3 separate regions of the Homo sapiens genome follow, and all the other regions are linked to region 2. The links come from fine-mapping of genetic effects on gene expression. A gene starts in region 2. Each other region holds a variant in brackets. All regions are shown on one strand. Distances are from middle to middle. Region 1 has its middle 44 kb from the start of ADORA2B. Region 2 holds the start of ADORA2B (adenosine A2b receptor). Region 3 has its middle 29 kb from the start of ADORA2B.

Evidence for each region. PIP is the estimated chance that this variant, and not a neighbour inherited with it, causes the effect.
Region 1: its variant is the best candidate, but not a certain one, in a credible set for the expression of ADORA2B in whole blood (TOPMed, PIP 0.67).
Region 3: its variant is the best candidate, but not a certain one, in a credible set for the expression of ADORA2B in whole blood (GTEx, PIP 0.75).

Annotation. Positions count from the first base shown.
Region 1 is chr17:15,898,338-15,903,559 of GRCh38, forward strand. It overlaps a transcript of ADORA2B not described here. Among named protein-coding and RNA genes, the nearest start is that of ADORA2B, 44 kb to the right of the region's middle. The variant C/T (reference allele first, on the strand shown) is at 2,984.
Region 2 is chr17:15,942,317-15,947,538 of GRCh38, forward strand. It overlaps ADORA2B (adenosine A2b receptor), which reads left to right and starts at 2,814. Exons shown (of 2, transcript NM_000676.4): 1 at 2,814-3,267. The coding sequence starts at 2,933. RefSeq lists a silencer at 2,370-2,989 and an enhancer at 2,817-3,631.
Region 3 is chr17:15,913,129-15,918,350 of GRCh38, forward strand. It overlaps a transcript of ADORA2B not described here. Among named protein-coding and RNA genes, the nearest start is that of ADORA2B, 29 kb to the right of the region's middle. The variant G/A (reference allele first, on the strand shown) is at 2,741.

The DNA of each region.
Region 1 (5,222 bases), 44 kb before region 2:
GACTGGAGTGCAATGGCGCGATCTCGGCTCACTGTAACCTCTGCTTTCCGGTTTCAAGCGATTCTCCTGCATCAGCCTCCCGAGTAGCTGGGTTTTACACTTTCTTAATCTCCCACTTTTTTTTTTTTTTTTTTTGAGACAGAGTCTCAAAATCCCGAGTAGCTGGGATTTCAGGCACCCACTACCACACATGGCTAATTTTTGTATTTTTAGTGGAGATGGGGTTTCACCATGTTGGCCAGGCTGGTCTCGAACTCCTGACTTCGTGATCCACCCGCCTCAGCCTCCCAAAGTTCTGGGATTACAGGCGTGAGCCACTGCGCCCGGCCTTGCTTTTTAAATTTATTGTCTTTGTCTTAAGTTTTGTCTAAAGCACTACAGAAGTTAGCTGGGAAGAGAATGAGATCATGTTCTTAATTGTCAGAGTCAAGGATTTTATTTGGATGGATGGTCTGTGAGGAGCTGCTGACACACATGATAAGTAATCTTAAAGTCACTTAGGAGTGTTTGTGAACATTTTAACCAGCTTATTCCAACAACGAAATAGAAATTTCCTACATTCTTAAACATTTGTTTTTCAATACCGTGATGTGGATTGAAAAATAATATAGGCCGGGCACAGTAGCTCACGCCCATAATCCCAGCATTTTGGGAGGCTGAGGTGGGCAGATCACTTGAGTCCAGGAGTCCTAGACCAGCCTGGCCAACATGGTGAAACTGTGTCTCTACTAAAAATACAAAAATTAGCTGAGCATGGTGGCGCACACCTGTAATCCCAGCTACTTGGGAGGCTGAGGCAGGAGAATCACTTGAACCTGGGAGGCGGAGGTTGCAGTGTGCCAAGATAGCACCACTGCACTCCAGCCTGGGTGACAGAGCGAGACTCTGTCTCAAAAAAAAAAAGAAAAATAATATATTGAATTATACATGACACTTTTAAACTACACCCAGTCAGAACTGACAGCAGTAGTAATCCATAAATCTTCCATCAAGTTCTGTAGTTAGATTATGCAGGGAAAATTTTCTTATATGTATATATTCAAGTAAATAGCAGTTTCTGGGTGTAACATATTAGCAAGCATGAGAACTTTAATTAATTTATTTTTATAATTTCAACTTTTACTTGAGATTCCGGGAGTACATGTGCAGGTTTGTTACATGGGTATATGGCATGCTGCTGAGGTTTGGGGTATGATTGATCTTCTTACCCAGGTAGTGAGTATAGCACCCAGTTGTTTTTCAGCCCTTGCCTCTCTTCTTCCATTCCCTCTCTTGTAGTCCCCAGTGTCTATTGTCCCATCTTTATGCCCATGACTACCCAGTGTTTAGCGTCCTCTTGTAAGTGAAAACATGCAATATTTGGTTTTCTGTTTCTATGTGGGTTAGCTTAGGATTATGGCCTCCAGCTGCATCCATGTTGCTGCAAAGGACATCAGTTCATTCTTTTTTATGGCTGTGTAGTATTCCATGGTGTTTATATGTACCACATTTTCTTTTTTTCTTTTTTTTTTTTGAGACAGAGTCTCTCTCTGTCGGCAGGCTGGGGTGCAGTGGCGTGATTCTAGCTCACTGCAACCTCTGACTCCCTGGTTCAAGTGATTCTTCTGCCTCAGCCTCCTGAGTAGCTGGGATTACAGGCACGTGCCACCATGCCCAGCTAATTTTTATATTTTTAGTTGAGACAGGCTTTCACCATGTTGGCCAGGGTGGTCTCGATCTCTTGACCTCGTGATCCGCTTGCCTCGGCCTCCCAAAGTGCTGGGACTACAGGCATGAGCCACTGCACCCAGCCAAACACATTTTCTTTATCCGGTCCACCACTGATGGACACCTAAGTTGATTCCATGTCTTTGCTATTGTGAGTAGTGATGCAGTGAACATACATGTGCATTTGTCTTTTTGGTAGAATGATTTATTTTCTGTTGGATATATACCCAGTAATGGGATTACTGGGTTGAATGGTAGTTTTGTTTTAAGTTTTTTGAGAAATCTCCGAATCGCTTTCCACAGTGGCTGTACTAATTTACATTCCCACCAACAGGGTATAAGCATTCCCTTTTCTCCTCAACCTCACCAGCATCTGTTATATTTTGACTTTTTATTTTTATTTTTTATTTTTTATTTTTTTGACATAGGGTCTTGCCCTGTCGCCCAGGCTGAAGCACAGTGATATGATGATAGGTCATGCAGCTTTGAACTCCCAGGCTAAAGTGATCCTCCCACCTCAGCCTCCCAAGTAGCTAGGACTACATGCATGTGCCACCATGCCCAGCTAATTAAAAAAATTTTTTTTGTAGTGATGCATTCTCAACATGTTGCCTAGGCTGGTCTTGAACTCCTGGGATCAAGCAATCCTCCCACCTCAGCCCCTTAAAGTACTGAGATTACAGGTGTGAGCCACCGTGCCCAGCCTGACTTTTTATCAGTAGCCATTCTGACTGGTGTGAGAGGATGCAATCTTTAAAAGTGAAGTTCTGCAGCGTTTCCCAGATCTTAGAAAGTGTTCCTCCTCGGCCACCATGTAAGGAAAGCGTCTTAGCCAGCCCAATTGCAAGTGTGAGCAATTCCCCACAGAAAGAATTTGGTGAGGGAGAATATGTGACATCGCTGTTGTAAAAACAGTCAGAACGTGTGTCCCCAGGACTGCCATGTCTGTACCGGGCCGTTTAGTCCATGAAGGTTGTTGCTCACTGAGTGCCAGCATGCCCACCGGGACAGCAGCTGCACACACAGACTGGGTGCTGCAGGCTCCCTCTAGGGAGGTCACCACAAAGCGATTCCTGAGGCGTGACCACACCTACTCTGCAGTCTGAACTTGATGAGCTATACTGAAATAGCTAATTTGAGGCTGGGCACAGTGGCTCACACCTGTAATCCCAGCACTTTGAGAGGCTGAGGTGGGCAGATCACCTTAGGTCAGGAGTTTGAGACCAGCCTGACCAACATGGAGAAGCCCTGTCTCTACTAAAAATACAAAATTAGC[C/T]GGGTGTGGTGGTGCATGCCTGTAATCCCAGCTACTCAGGAGGCTGAGGCAGGAGAATCCTTGAACCCAGGAGGTGGAGGTTGTGGTGAGCCAAGATCACACCATTGCACTCCAGCCTGGGCAACAAGAGCGAAACTCCATCTCAAAAGAGAAAAAAAAAAAAAGCTAATTTGAGCTGATTACATGAAAAGCACTTTTTTTCATATTTACTATGTCTACTTACTATTTACCCATTCTAGGCATTTTCCATGCATGGATTTATTGAACCCTCATGGAGGTTCTGCAAAATGAATACACTGTACAGGGGGAAACTGAGGCACACAGCTCCTAGGCAAGAGGCAAGTCCAGGCAGGCAGCTCCAGAGCCCATGCCCTCAACCATGGTGACAGTTGTGTCCACCCTCTGGCTCCTAAAACACAATTTATTCATGGTATAATCGAGCACATGCCCTATTATATTGTAATTTATCTGATCATATGGCAAATCTCCCCCCACCACCTCCGCAAGACCACGAGCTCCCAAGAGCAAGAAGTTTTATCTTGTTTTTTATTGTGGTAAAATACACATAAGAGTCACTGTCTTAATTTTTAGTTTACAGTTCAGTGGTATTGAGTCCATTCATGTTGTGGGTGCAGCTGTCACACCTTCCTCTCCAGCACTCTTCATCTTCTCAAACCGGCACTCTGCGCCCATTAAACATTAACTCCCCATTCTCCCTCCCCTCAGCCCCTGGCAACCACCATTCCACTTTCTGTCTCTGTGAATCTGACTACTCTAGTACCTCATTTGAGTGGATTCATATGGGATTTGTCTTTTTGTGAGTGGGTTATTTCACTCAGCATAATGTTTTCAAAGTTCATCCAGGTTTAGCATTAGCATGTACCAGGATTCCCTTCCTTTTTTTTTTTTTGAGACAGTCTCGCTCTGTCATTCCAGGCTGGAGTGCAGTGGCACGATCTTGGCTCACTGCAACCTCCACCTTCCAGGTTCAAGCGATTCTCCTGCCTCAGCCTCCTGGGATTACAGGCCTGCGCCATCATGCCTGGCTAATTTTTGTATTTTTACAAATATTTCTCCATGTTGGCCAGGCTGGCCCCAAACTCCTGACCTCAGGTAATCCACCTGCCTCAGGCTCCCAAAGTGCTGGGATTACAGGCATGAGCCACTGCGCTGGGTCGCTTCCTTTTTAAGGCTGAATAATATCCCAAATATCCCATTGTACGGATAAACCACATTTTGCTCATCCATTTATCATCAGCCAATATTTTCCAAACCAAGTTCATTTTCATCCTGGCTGGAGCCTTTTTCTCTTCCATCTGATTTGTTCTGTCTTCAGCATCCCACGAATTGGATACTTACTCCATGCTAATCCATCCCATGGCTGTCCACACCAAACCACATGGGAGGATGATTTCCCTGTATCAGAGCTGACATACCATTACAAAGGCTACTCGGCTTCTGGATCTACACTTCCTCAGTAGCCTTGAAGTTCAGAATCAGCTTCAGATGCACAGTAGAAGCATTCTCCTTGTCAGATGAACAGTGCAGAAGATTCTGGAGGGCTCACTGGCAACCTGTCATGGCAGGTTGTGATGGGAAGGGGCCCATGGGGGCTTCTGGGATGCAGATAGTGTGCTACTTTGTGATCTGGGAGGTGATTATATATATTTGCTTTATAATAACTCATTAAATTATGAATTTATATTTTATATATTTTTCAAATGTATCTTGTGTTTCACAATGAGTAGTTATTAAAAGATTGGAAGTAATTATAAACATCTAGATGGATTCTGCAGTTTGCTTCATAACTGTCTTTAAATTTTTGCTCCACTTGAAAATTTTTAAAAAGTAAATTAGGGCTTTCTGGACTGTCTATTTTGGGTCTGGCTTTTGCAAGAAACATGGCATCAAGCCCTCAACCTTGGACCATGCTCAAATAAAAGGCCTAGGTTCAAATCATTGGATGGGCAAATGAGTATGTATAGTTGTATATTTCAGGTTAAAATGAAAAATATAAGATTGAAATGGAAAATATATATTATTTTCTGTGGTTACCCACTTTAGGCTGTATTTTTGTCTAGATACAGTGGGAACTCTGCTAAATTCACCTTTTATGTAAATTGGAAATTTTACTTAGAAAGGCCTACTTTAGCACTATGTAGGGGGAAGAAAGCACCTTCTAGGCTGAATGCTACCCAGAGACCCTCCCCCCAAGCACCTATGCTTCAAAATTGCCTCC
Region 2 (5,222 bases):
CTCTTGCTCCTGCTTTCCCCATGTGACATGCCTGCTCCCACTTCACCCTCTGCCACTAGTAAAGCTCCCTGAGGCCCCTTGGAAGCCAAGCAGATGCTGGCACTATGGTTTACAGGCTGCAGAACTGTGAGCCAAATAAACCTCTTTTCTTTGTAAATTACCCAGTCTCAGATATTTCCCTATAGCAATGTAAGAATGGCCTAATACATTGGGTGATTCAGGGAAGGTTTCCTGATGGAGGTTGGGCTCTGAAAAGGGGAAATGGTGATTCTGGGCACAGGAAATGCTAGAGCAGAGCCCAGGCCCAGCAGCTGCAGGGCGTGCAGGAACCACTCATAGCAACCAGCCAGACACCGTTCGCCTCCTCTCCCTCTGCAAAATCTCCACTCACTCCTTTGGATATTGCTCTGACCATCCCCGCCCCGTCCTGTGACCTCTGCGGACTGGCATCCCAGCAGGATGGCCCAGCTCTCCAGCCTGGCAGCCAGAGCCTTCTCCACTAGGCCTTTTTCTCTTCACTCTCCTGGGCATGGCACCCCTGGGCAAACTCCTAACTACCACCTCTGCCTGGTATAGCTGGAACCACCCCACTGTGAAGCCTCCCTCACTCTGTAAAAGCCAGTACCCCAGGAAGCCTCCTCTAACCCTTTGCCCTCTGCCACTCCAAGGAAGTGCTATTGGAGGAGCTGCCTGATCTCTCTGGCCTTCTGTGTGGCAGCAGAAGTTTGTGTCAACTGCTGTGGGAACGTGATTGGTGGAGCAGGTGATTCCAGAACTCACGTGACCAGGACACGGAATGTGTGGGCTTGCCAATATTTTGATATATAAATCAACTGTTTTCATTATGGAAGTAACAAAACCTCAAGGGAAATAGAAAAAAAAATTCCCTGTAATCATCCCACCCAGCTAGGAGGTCTACTGTGTGTGTTTTTGACATTTTGCTGTCCTCGTTGGTGCAAGGGCAGATGTGACTGTTTATGCCTGTGGAGGGCAGAGGGGTTTTTCTTCTTCTTGTCTTTTTTTAGAGACAGGGTCTCCCTCTTTTGCCCAGCCTGGATGGAATGCAGTGGCATGATCCCAGCTCACTGCAGCCTCGAACCCCTGGCCTCAAAGGATCCTCCTGCCTCAGCCTCCCAAGTAGCTGGGACTACAGGCACCTGCCACCGTGCCTGGCTGATTTATTTTTTATTTGTTTGTTTAGAGATGGGGTCTCCCTACATTGGCCAGGCTGGTCTTGAACTCCTGGCCTCAAATGTTCCTCCTGTCTTGGCCTCCCAAAGTTTTGGGATTATAGGCGTGAGCCATGTTGTCGTCATTACAGCTACATTGAGATATAATTTATGTGCCACACAATGCATGCCTTTCAAGTGTACAGTTCAGTGGCATTGAGGTATATCCACAGAACCGTACAACCATCACCACATTGAGAAAATTTTTATCACCCTAAAAAATCCTTTACAAAATCCTTTACCCTTTAGCAGTCACCCCATGTTTTGATTTTTGCTTTACATGATTTTACAAGCATCTTTTCCTGTTGCTGGAAAATCTCCTTACCCATCCTCTTTGGTGACTGTCAGCAAAGGCTTTCGGGTGGTGAAATAGCGTGGCCAGGAGTGCTCTAGAACAATGGTGTTGGTGAGGGCTGCAGAAGCTGAGGACCCACAGGCAGAGAGGGAGGGATGGTAGAAGCAGGTGGTGAGGAGGGACTCGGGGCAGGACTTTGGGGGTAAAAGGAAGCAAGTCTCTGGAAGCAGAACCAGCAGCACTGCTGATCATTGGGACGTGGAGAAAGGCGAAGGCTCAGGGTGTCAGCAAACTTCCTAGGGTGGGTGAGGGTTGCCAGGTCAATAACGAACAGGGTCCCAGGAAAAGGCGGCAGCACAGGTTTGGGGAGAATTAGAGATGAGCTTGGTTTTGGTCTTGTTGGATTTGGGGGCACCAGTCTCTCTCCTGGCGAGAGTCGGCAGTGGGGTGTTAGGATCTGGCCCTCAGGAGGCTGTTAGGGCTGAAGCAAGAGATTTGGGAGTTAAGGGTGTGAGGGCCACGTGGGAGGCCTCGGGAGCCTGTGCCGATCCAGGGTGAGTGTGAAGGAAAGAAAAAAGAGGGCCCGGGGAACACTGGTATTTTCGGGCGGTGGACGAGGATGGGACGGCCACGAGCTTGTCTTAAGGTAGAAGGCAGAGCGGGGCCGTAGGGGCAGTGGCGCGGGCGAGGGTGGAGAACAGCGCTGAGCCTCGCTGGGAGGCGGCCGGAGGGGGCTGCAGCCCCCGAGGGCTCCTTGCAGTCCGGCCCCGCAGCCTGGAGACAGCTCCGGTGGTGCTGCGCTGCCCGAGACTGCTGCACGAGCGGGGACTGCGGCCTCGGCTCCCTGCCTGCCCGGCAGCCCCCCATCCAGTCGGCCTGCCCGGGGTGCGCAGGGTTAGCCTGGAGTGAGCTCGCCCCGCCCGGGGTTGCGCGGCCCTGGGGGGTCCTCTCGCGGCGGCTCCTGGGACCTGCTGGCGCCCCGGGCAGAGCCCGGCCCCATCCCAGGAGTCGCCCGGACTGGAAGGCAGTGCGAGCACTGGGACACAGCCTCCGAGCTCGAGCGTGACGGGAAGTTGGGGCAATTTGTTAGTTATCCGCCGCCACCAAGACGCGGCACGGCGCCTGGACCGGAGGGGCCCCGCGCGGGCGCGAACTTTGGGCTCGGGCGAGTGGGTGGTGCTCCGCCCAGCCCGAGACGGGCGGGCGCGCGGGCCAATGGGTGCCGCCTCTTGGCCGCGGGGGGCCCCGACCCGTGGGTCCCGGCCACCAGCGCCCCAGCCCCGAGGCTCAGAAGCGGCAGGCGGAGGCGCGGTCCGGGCGCTATGGCCATGCCCGGCGGGTCTCACGCGGCTGCCCCTCGCCCGGCGCGCCTTCGGTAGGGGGCGCCCGGGGCCCAGCTGGCCCGGCCATGCTGCTGGAGACACAGGACGCGCTGTACGTGGCGCTGGAGCTGGTCATCGCCGCGCTTTCGGTGGCGGGCAACGTGCTGGTGTGCGCCGCGGTGGGCACGGCGAACACTCTGCAGACGCCCACCAACTACTTCCTGGTGTCCCTGGCTGCGGCCGACGTGGCCGTGGGGCTCTTCGCCATCCCCTTTGCCATCACCATCAGCCTGGGCTTCTGCACTGACTTCTACGGCTGCCTCTTCCTCGCCTGCTTCGTGCTGGTGCTCACGCAGAGCTCCATCTTCAGCCTTCTGGCCGTGGCAGTCGACAGATACCTGGCCATCTGTGTCCCGCTCAGGTGAGGCGCTCGGCGTCGCCCGAACTCGGGGCCCCGTCGGAGCTCCGAAATGGGTCGTCTTCTCCAGGCCGGGGTTCCTCCCTCGGGGGCCCCAGACGGGCCAGGCTGGGGGCGCGCGGGGCGCTTGGAGGGCTGGTTCCCAGCCTGGCCACCCCGCAACGCTAGACCAGTGCGCCCGGGCACCCAAGACATCCCAGATGCGCGTCGCTCTAAGGAGATCTGCGTAGGGACAGCTCTAGGGGGTCCGGGGAGTGCGGTCCCCGGCGCCCGGGGAGGCGCCGTGGAAACCCCGGGGAAAGCGTCACCCCCGGGGAAAGCGTCACCCCCGTGGGCGGGTGGAGCCCGGGGCGCGGGAGTTTTGGTGATCACATCTCCACTCCTGCCACGAAGGCCGTTCCTAACACTCGCCCGCAGCGGCGGTGCAGCGGCAGTCCCGTGAGTGCTGCGGCTCCCGGAGGCCCGGGAGGTTCCCACTAAGGGCAAGGCAACTTTGGACGCTGGGCATTCGCACCGTCAGAATGGACACGCATGAGCCAGCTTCAGAACGTGTCTGCTGCGGAGAGGCGGCCCGGCCCATCCCAGGGGAAGGTGTCCGTTAACTTTGGGGAACGCTACGGACTCAGATTATATACTTTTAAAAGGAGTTACAATGCTTCCTCGTGTCTGGCAAACGGCCTTACAGCCTCACTGCCCTTGTGTAACTATTTATCTCCTGCTGCCCTGTTGGGAGCGGGCTGAGAAGTGCAGAAAATGGTGGCGAACTTACTTGTCCACTCTTTCTCCCACACTGAGAAAATCTAGGATTCAGGGGATGGAGTCAGCCAGCGACCAGAGTGGATTCCCAGTTGGAGCTGATGACTTCAACATTGAGAGTTTGTTGAAAGTATTTATTCTCTGTCTTTGGTGCCTGGGCCACTTTGGCATTTCTGAGGAGAGCTTGAGATCTCTTTAAATTTGGAGCTGAGACAGGGAAACTAAATCACAGAGTAGGAAGGAAGGGAAGGAATTCATTTATTGGGTGCCAACTCTGTGCAGACAGTTTATAATAAACGTGTCCCCAGCAGTCCTTGCAGTAGTACCAGAGGACGGGTGCTGTAACCTTCATCTCGTAGAGGAGGGGTGATGGCCCAGGGAGGTTGGAGTCTTGCCCAGGATGGTGTATCAGGGATGGGTGTCAGAGCCGGGGCTTGAACTCACAGCTGGCACCGTGTCCCCACCCATGCCATCAGGCCACTCTGCAAGGCCATGTGTGGCACCGTGTTTAGGAGTCAGGGAGAAAAGTGCTCTGCTGTTTTGGGAGGAGGAGCCTGCCTGCAGTAAACTGGTGGTTGTAGGGGAATGTGTTTGTGGGAATGGAGCCGGAGAATGCTCCCAGAGGCCATTTGAGTAGGCAGATGTGTTGGGCCTGGTCCTTGCAGGTTGTTTCGTGGGTCCCAGCAGGAACAGGAGCCTCCTGCTTGGGAGGGCTGTGAGCCTTATGTGGGTGTCTGGCCACTCCATGTGCTGCTGCCCGTGCTGTTGGACCAGGAGGCCTTATGTCTCCCATCAGGTGTGACAGCCCAGGGATTTCCAAGGCTTAGGGAGGACAGCAGTTTCTTCTCTCTCTTCTGGATCCCTTCCCTGCCTTTTGGTGTCATCGTTGTTACTTGATGGCATTTTGGATGTTTTGCATCCAGCAGAGCAGTCACAAGCCCCAGCCTGAGTTGTCCATCTAATGGAAACCCCTTGGACTTGCCCTGGCAGAGACCAGAGACCCAGAGAGGAGTTAGTGGAACAATCTCCCAGGCCACAGGGAGCAGGAAGTTCCATGAAAGTTTAAATCTGTTCCTTCTTGTCCTGGTTTGTGCTGGGTGAGGTCTTGAAAAAAATGGGTGTGGGTGTGTTAAGGGGAAAGTGCTGTGAATCACAGGCCCTGAGCTTCTTTGCATTGCCAAGGGCAGGAGGGAAGAACACTG
Region 3 (5,222 bases), 29 kb before region 2:
CACTTGCCCACCCTGTGTCCCTTGGCCCACAGCTGGCTCTTCCTTCCCTGAGCCAGAAGGGCTTGGATTCTTAGGCTGTGCATTTACACCCTGCACTCTGAGCTCCTTGGAAGCAGAGCTGTGTATTTACTGACTCAAAATGCTACAGCCTAATGTGTAACAGTTGCTAAATAGATAATTTTTGATTAATTAGTGGAAATATCCAGCTCCCACTGATGGTCATTCTGACTTGGAATTCTTCACTGAACTCAAGGAATAAACACCTCCGCATCCAGCCTGGTTTCAGAGCTGCAGTCAGTCTTGTCAACAGTTGTTTCCAGCTTTTCCAGCTTGATGGTGAAAATCCCAGAATTGCAAACAAGAAGGACCCCTGGAGGGAAACTCAAAACCTGGCCATTCTAAGACCTTTGTCATTTTTCCTTCTTTCTCTGCTACTATCACTTATGGTATCATGAATGGACACAATACATTTCCAAGCAGAATCTCTGAACCTTCCAAACTCATTAAATTCATACATTGTAACTTGACTCACCTGCCTTATTAAAACCTTACCAACATTTTTCTAGATTATGAAAAATATGCTATAAAAAAATTTGGCCTGGACATCTTGCAGTGTTGGCCAAAGGGCCGGTCCCGTCACCCCTCCCATATGTCCATCTGGGTTACTATTTATATCACCCTTTAAACCAGATCATTACCCTCATATCAGAAAAATAGCAAAACAGAAAATGGAACATGGGAAAAGTTAGCCACAGCTTGCTTTTACTGCTACATGTGACCTCAGAAGGCCTGGCCACTGTTTGAAAAGTCTAATCCTAGACAACACATATGGCTGGAGAAGGAACCTTGACCACAGCAGAGTCTTCGATCTTCTCAGGGGCAGGAGGACTTCACTGTGCTCTTCTGATAGCCAGGAACAGGCACCTAGGCGGGCTGCCCCGAATCATGGGGACATGCAGCTCATGGCAAGGAGGAAAATGAGCCATACTGAGTCCTGGGAAGGCATTTCAAACACACATTTTACTCCCACACATTTGACCACCTATAGTTGGAAGAAAAAATAAGGTTAATTCAAAAAAAAATTCTTTGAGACAATCTCACTCTCTTGCCCATGCTGGAGTGTGGTGGCATGATCCTAGCACACTAGAACCTTGAACTCCTGGGATCAAGGGATCCTTCCACCTCAGCCTCCTAAGTAGCTAGGACTACAGATGCATGCCATCACACCCAGCTGACTTTTTATATTTTTACTTTTTGTAGAGAGAGGGCTCTTGCTTTGTTGCCCAGGCTAGCCTCAAACCTCTGGCCCCAAGTGATCCTCCCATCCGAGTCTCCCAAAGTGCTGAGATTACAAGTGTGAGCCACTGTGCCCAGCTGTTAAAAAAAACAGGATGTGTCTATTGTCACCTGCCATTGCAGCCAATAATCATGTGCCCCAGAGCAAGCATGAACCATATAGCTGGTCTGTCTACAGCCTCAGCTCCTGTGGGTCACCCATTGTGTAAGTGTCCCATGACATTGAGTGCAGTTTCAGTATTTAAAGCTTTCTTTGCTTGCTTGTTTGTTTGGATACAGTATGGACCTTAACTGCAAGCTAACTGTTTCATCTAATGCTCAGCGCATCCCTGGAGGAAAACTTGGCTGTGTTGGGGCCATTTGAGAGGATTTTTAGATGTTCCAGATGGTAGCTTGATGGCAACTGACACAGGAGAATTTCCAACTTGTGCACTGACTTTAGATCCTAACTTCTTAGGCAACTCTCCTCAAAGTTCAGGTCTTTTGGGGCAACCCTCATTTCGTGACTACCTCGGGCTGAGTCATGACTGCTCACTGTCATTGTATTCGCTTTCTGTGGCTGTTGTAACAAATTATCACAAACTCAGTGGCTTAAAACAACAGGAACTTGGTATCTCACAGTCCTGGGGTTCAGAAGTGCAGCATAGCCTCACTGTGTTAAAATCAAGGTGTCACAGTGCAGCTTCCTTCCTGGAGGCTCTAGAAGAGAATCCGCCTTCTTGCCATTCCCAGCCTCCAGGGGCCTCCTGCATTCCTTAGCTTGTGGCCCCTTCCTGCATCTTCAAAGCCAGCAGCGTTGCCTCTGTGGCTGTTCTTCCAGTCACATCTCCCCTGGTTCTCTGCTGCTGCGAAAGGCGCTCTGATTTTAAGGACTCATGTTAAGTAGATTGGGCCTATCTGGAGAATCCAGGCTATTCTCTCTATTGCAAGGTCTCTAACCTTAATCACATCTGCAGAGTCCCTTCTGCCATGTAAGCTAACACATTTACAGGTTCCAGGGACTCAGGAGTGGACATCTCTGGGGACCATTATTCTGCCTGCCATAGTCATCTCTTCTTTCTTTCTCCACCCATTAACAATCCATGGAATCTTTCTGTATTTTCTAGTTATAGTTACCAAGCTGTGTTAGTCAAGGTTCTCCAGAGAAACAGCCCCAATAGGAGATAGATAGGTGATAGATAGACAGGTGGACAGAAAGGGAATGAGATTAATTATACAGAACTGCCCCATGTGACTATGGAGGCTGAGAAGTCCCACAGTCTGCCGTGTCCAAGTGGAGACCCAGGAAGGCCAGTGGTGATGTTCAAAGGCCTAAAGAATTAAATATTCCTCTACCTTTTGGTTATATTTAAGCCCTCAGTGGATTGGGTGATGCCCACTGATATTGGGGAGGGTATCTGCTTGATTTAGTTCACCAACCCAAATACTAATCTCTTCCAGAAAC[G/A]CCCTCACAGCCACCCCAGAAACAATGTCCAACCAGCTATGTGGACATCCCTTGGCCCAGTGAAGTTGACACATAAAGTTAACCGTCACACAAGCTGAAGAATCAGATTGGCCTGCGATAGGTCTCCCCATTCTGCCTGAGCAGGCACTGATTTTCACATGGGATCACCTCACGGGTCACTAACCAGTCAGCAGTCGGCTGCCCTGGCTGTCAGCTGGGGTGGGGGGGTCACATGGCACTCACTATGGCTGCCTGCTTACGAACAGGCGAAGACTCTTGCAGCCCAGAGCTGTCTCCCTCCAAAGGCAGTGGTAAGCGGGATGAGCTGCAGGCTGTTATGTGTCCTGGGATGGGAATCAGGCTTCTCCCAAACAAGTCAACCTTCCTGGGGACTGCAGCTTTGTGCTACTGCAGCTGGAAGCCCAGCAGGACTGTGGGTCTGAGCCAGCCCCTGAGTTGAAGTGTAGGAGGACAAGTCACAGACAAAACCCCTCAGACACCGAGTTAAAGAAGGAAGGGCTTTATTCGACCAGGAGCTTCGACAAGACTCACATCTCCAACAACTGAGCTCCTGAGTGAACAACTCCTGTCCCTTTTAGGGGCTCACAACTCTAAGGGGGGTCCGCGTGAGAGGGTCGTGATCAACTGAGCAAGGAGGGGGGGTACATGACTGGGGTCTGCAAGCTCCTGCGTCGGTAATTAGAACAGAACAGGACAGGGATTTTCACAGTGCTTTTCTATACAGTGTCTGTAATCTATAGATAACATAACCAATTACATCAGGGGTCAATCTTTAATTACCAGGCCCAGGGAGTGGTGCCAGGCTGTCTGCCTGTGGATTTCATTTCTGCCTTTTAGTTTTTAATTCTTTCTTTGGAGGCAGAAATTGGGCATAAGACAGTATGAGGGGTGGTCTCCTCCCTTAGAAGGGGTTGTGGCACCAGTGAATTAGGTCATTGCCAGACCATTTTATAGACCAGGAAACTGAGGCACAGAAAGGCTCAATAATTTGCCTAAAGCAGCTCAGCTTGGAGAAGGCAAAGCAAGGATTTAAACCTAAGTGATCTGGCACCAAAGCCTGCACTCCTAGCCACTGCTCAATGCTCCACCATCGGCCACCTGTCCTGGAGAAGGAGGAGCACTTGCTGTGATCTCTTAATTGAAAAACAAGGCCGGGCACAGTGGCTTCCCAGCTCTTTGGGAGGACAACATGGGAGGATGGCTTGAGCAGGAGTTCAAGACCAGCCTGGGCAACAAAAACGAGACTGCATCTCCACAAAAAACTAAAAATGAGCTGGGCGTGGTGGCGCCTGTGGTCCCAGCTACTTGGGAGTCAGAGGCGGGAGAATCGCTTGAACCCGAGAGATAGAGGCTGCAGTGAGATCTGATTGTGCCACTGCATTCCCTCCTGGGCAACAGAGCCAGACCGTGCCTGCCACGGTACGCTGGTGTCCTCTTGAAGAGGGGGCTAGGCGGGGACAGCGGTACCCACGGAGTCTCGGAGTCTCGAGGGGCACGTTCCCTCAGGGCTCCCAAGGGGCGCCCACAAGGCGCCAGGCTGAGCCGGCGCAGCCAAATCTCCTCAGGGCTGCGGCCGCCCATCCTGGGACCGCGCCCCTGCACCATGTGGACGGTGCAGGCTGGGCTGGGGTCTGACGCCCGAGGACCCCTTCCCCCTGCCCAGCCCTGCCCCCGCAGGCACTGGAGGGCTCCCCTAGGCGGGGCTCCGGGCTAGGGAACAGGGATGCCCAGCAATCTCGCGCTCCCGGGGCCGGACTCCAGCGGCAGGGGCCTCCCCAGGCTGCGGCTCCGCGCCGGTGACGGGGGCTCTGCCGAAGGGCTCCTGCCCCTGCCTAGCCTGGCCCATGCTGGTCGCATCAGGGGCTCCATTCAACAGACGACCGCTCCGGGCCTGGCGCGGGCAGGGGCGCGCAGTCACCGCCTACTCGGCTCCTTGGCTTAGGCTCCCCAACCCCCTGCCACAGGAGGCCACCCCAAACTTCGCCTGTCCAGGCGAGTGCTCGGGCTCGGTCCCAGCCCCGCCTCCTGCCGCTGTCCCTCCCTCCCTCTCGAGCCTGCACTGGGCCCGGGCTGTCCTCCTCCGTATCCTTGTGGGTGATTGTACGTCCAGGTGGCCGTCGCGAGGCACCTTAGACTGGGCAGCTTAGAAACAACATTGCTATCTCGTGGTCCTGGGAGTCTGCGCTCGGGGTGGCAGCGTGGTCGGGCTCTGGAAAAGGCCTTCTTCCCGGTTGCCCAAGACCACCTTCTTGCTGTGTCCTCACTTGGACAGAGGGAGCTGCTCCTGGCCTCTTACAGGGGCAGGAATCCTTCCATCCTCATGACCTGGTCACCTCCCCAAGGCCCCAGCTCCTTATACCTTCACCTTGGTTCAGGTTTCAGCAGAGGAATTTGGAGAGGGGCACACAAACATTCAGTGCATTGCTGTGGGCTTATATCTTCTTTTGCGTCTTCTGGCCCC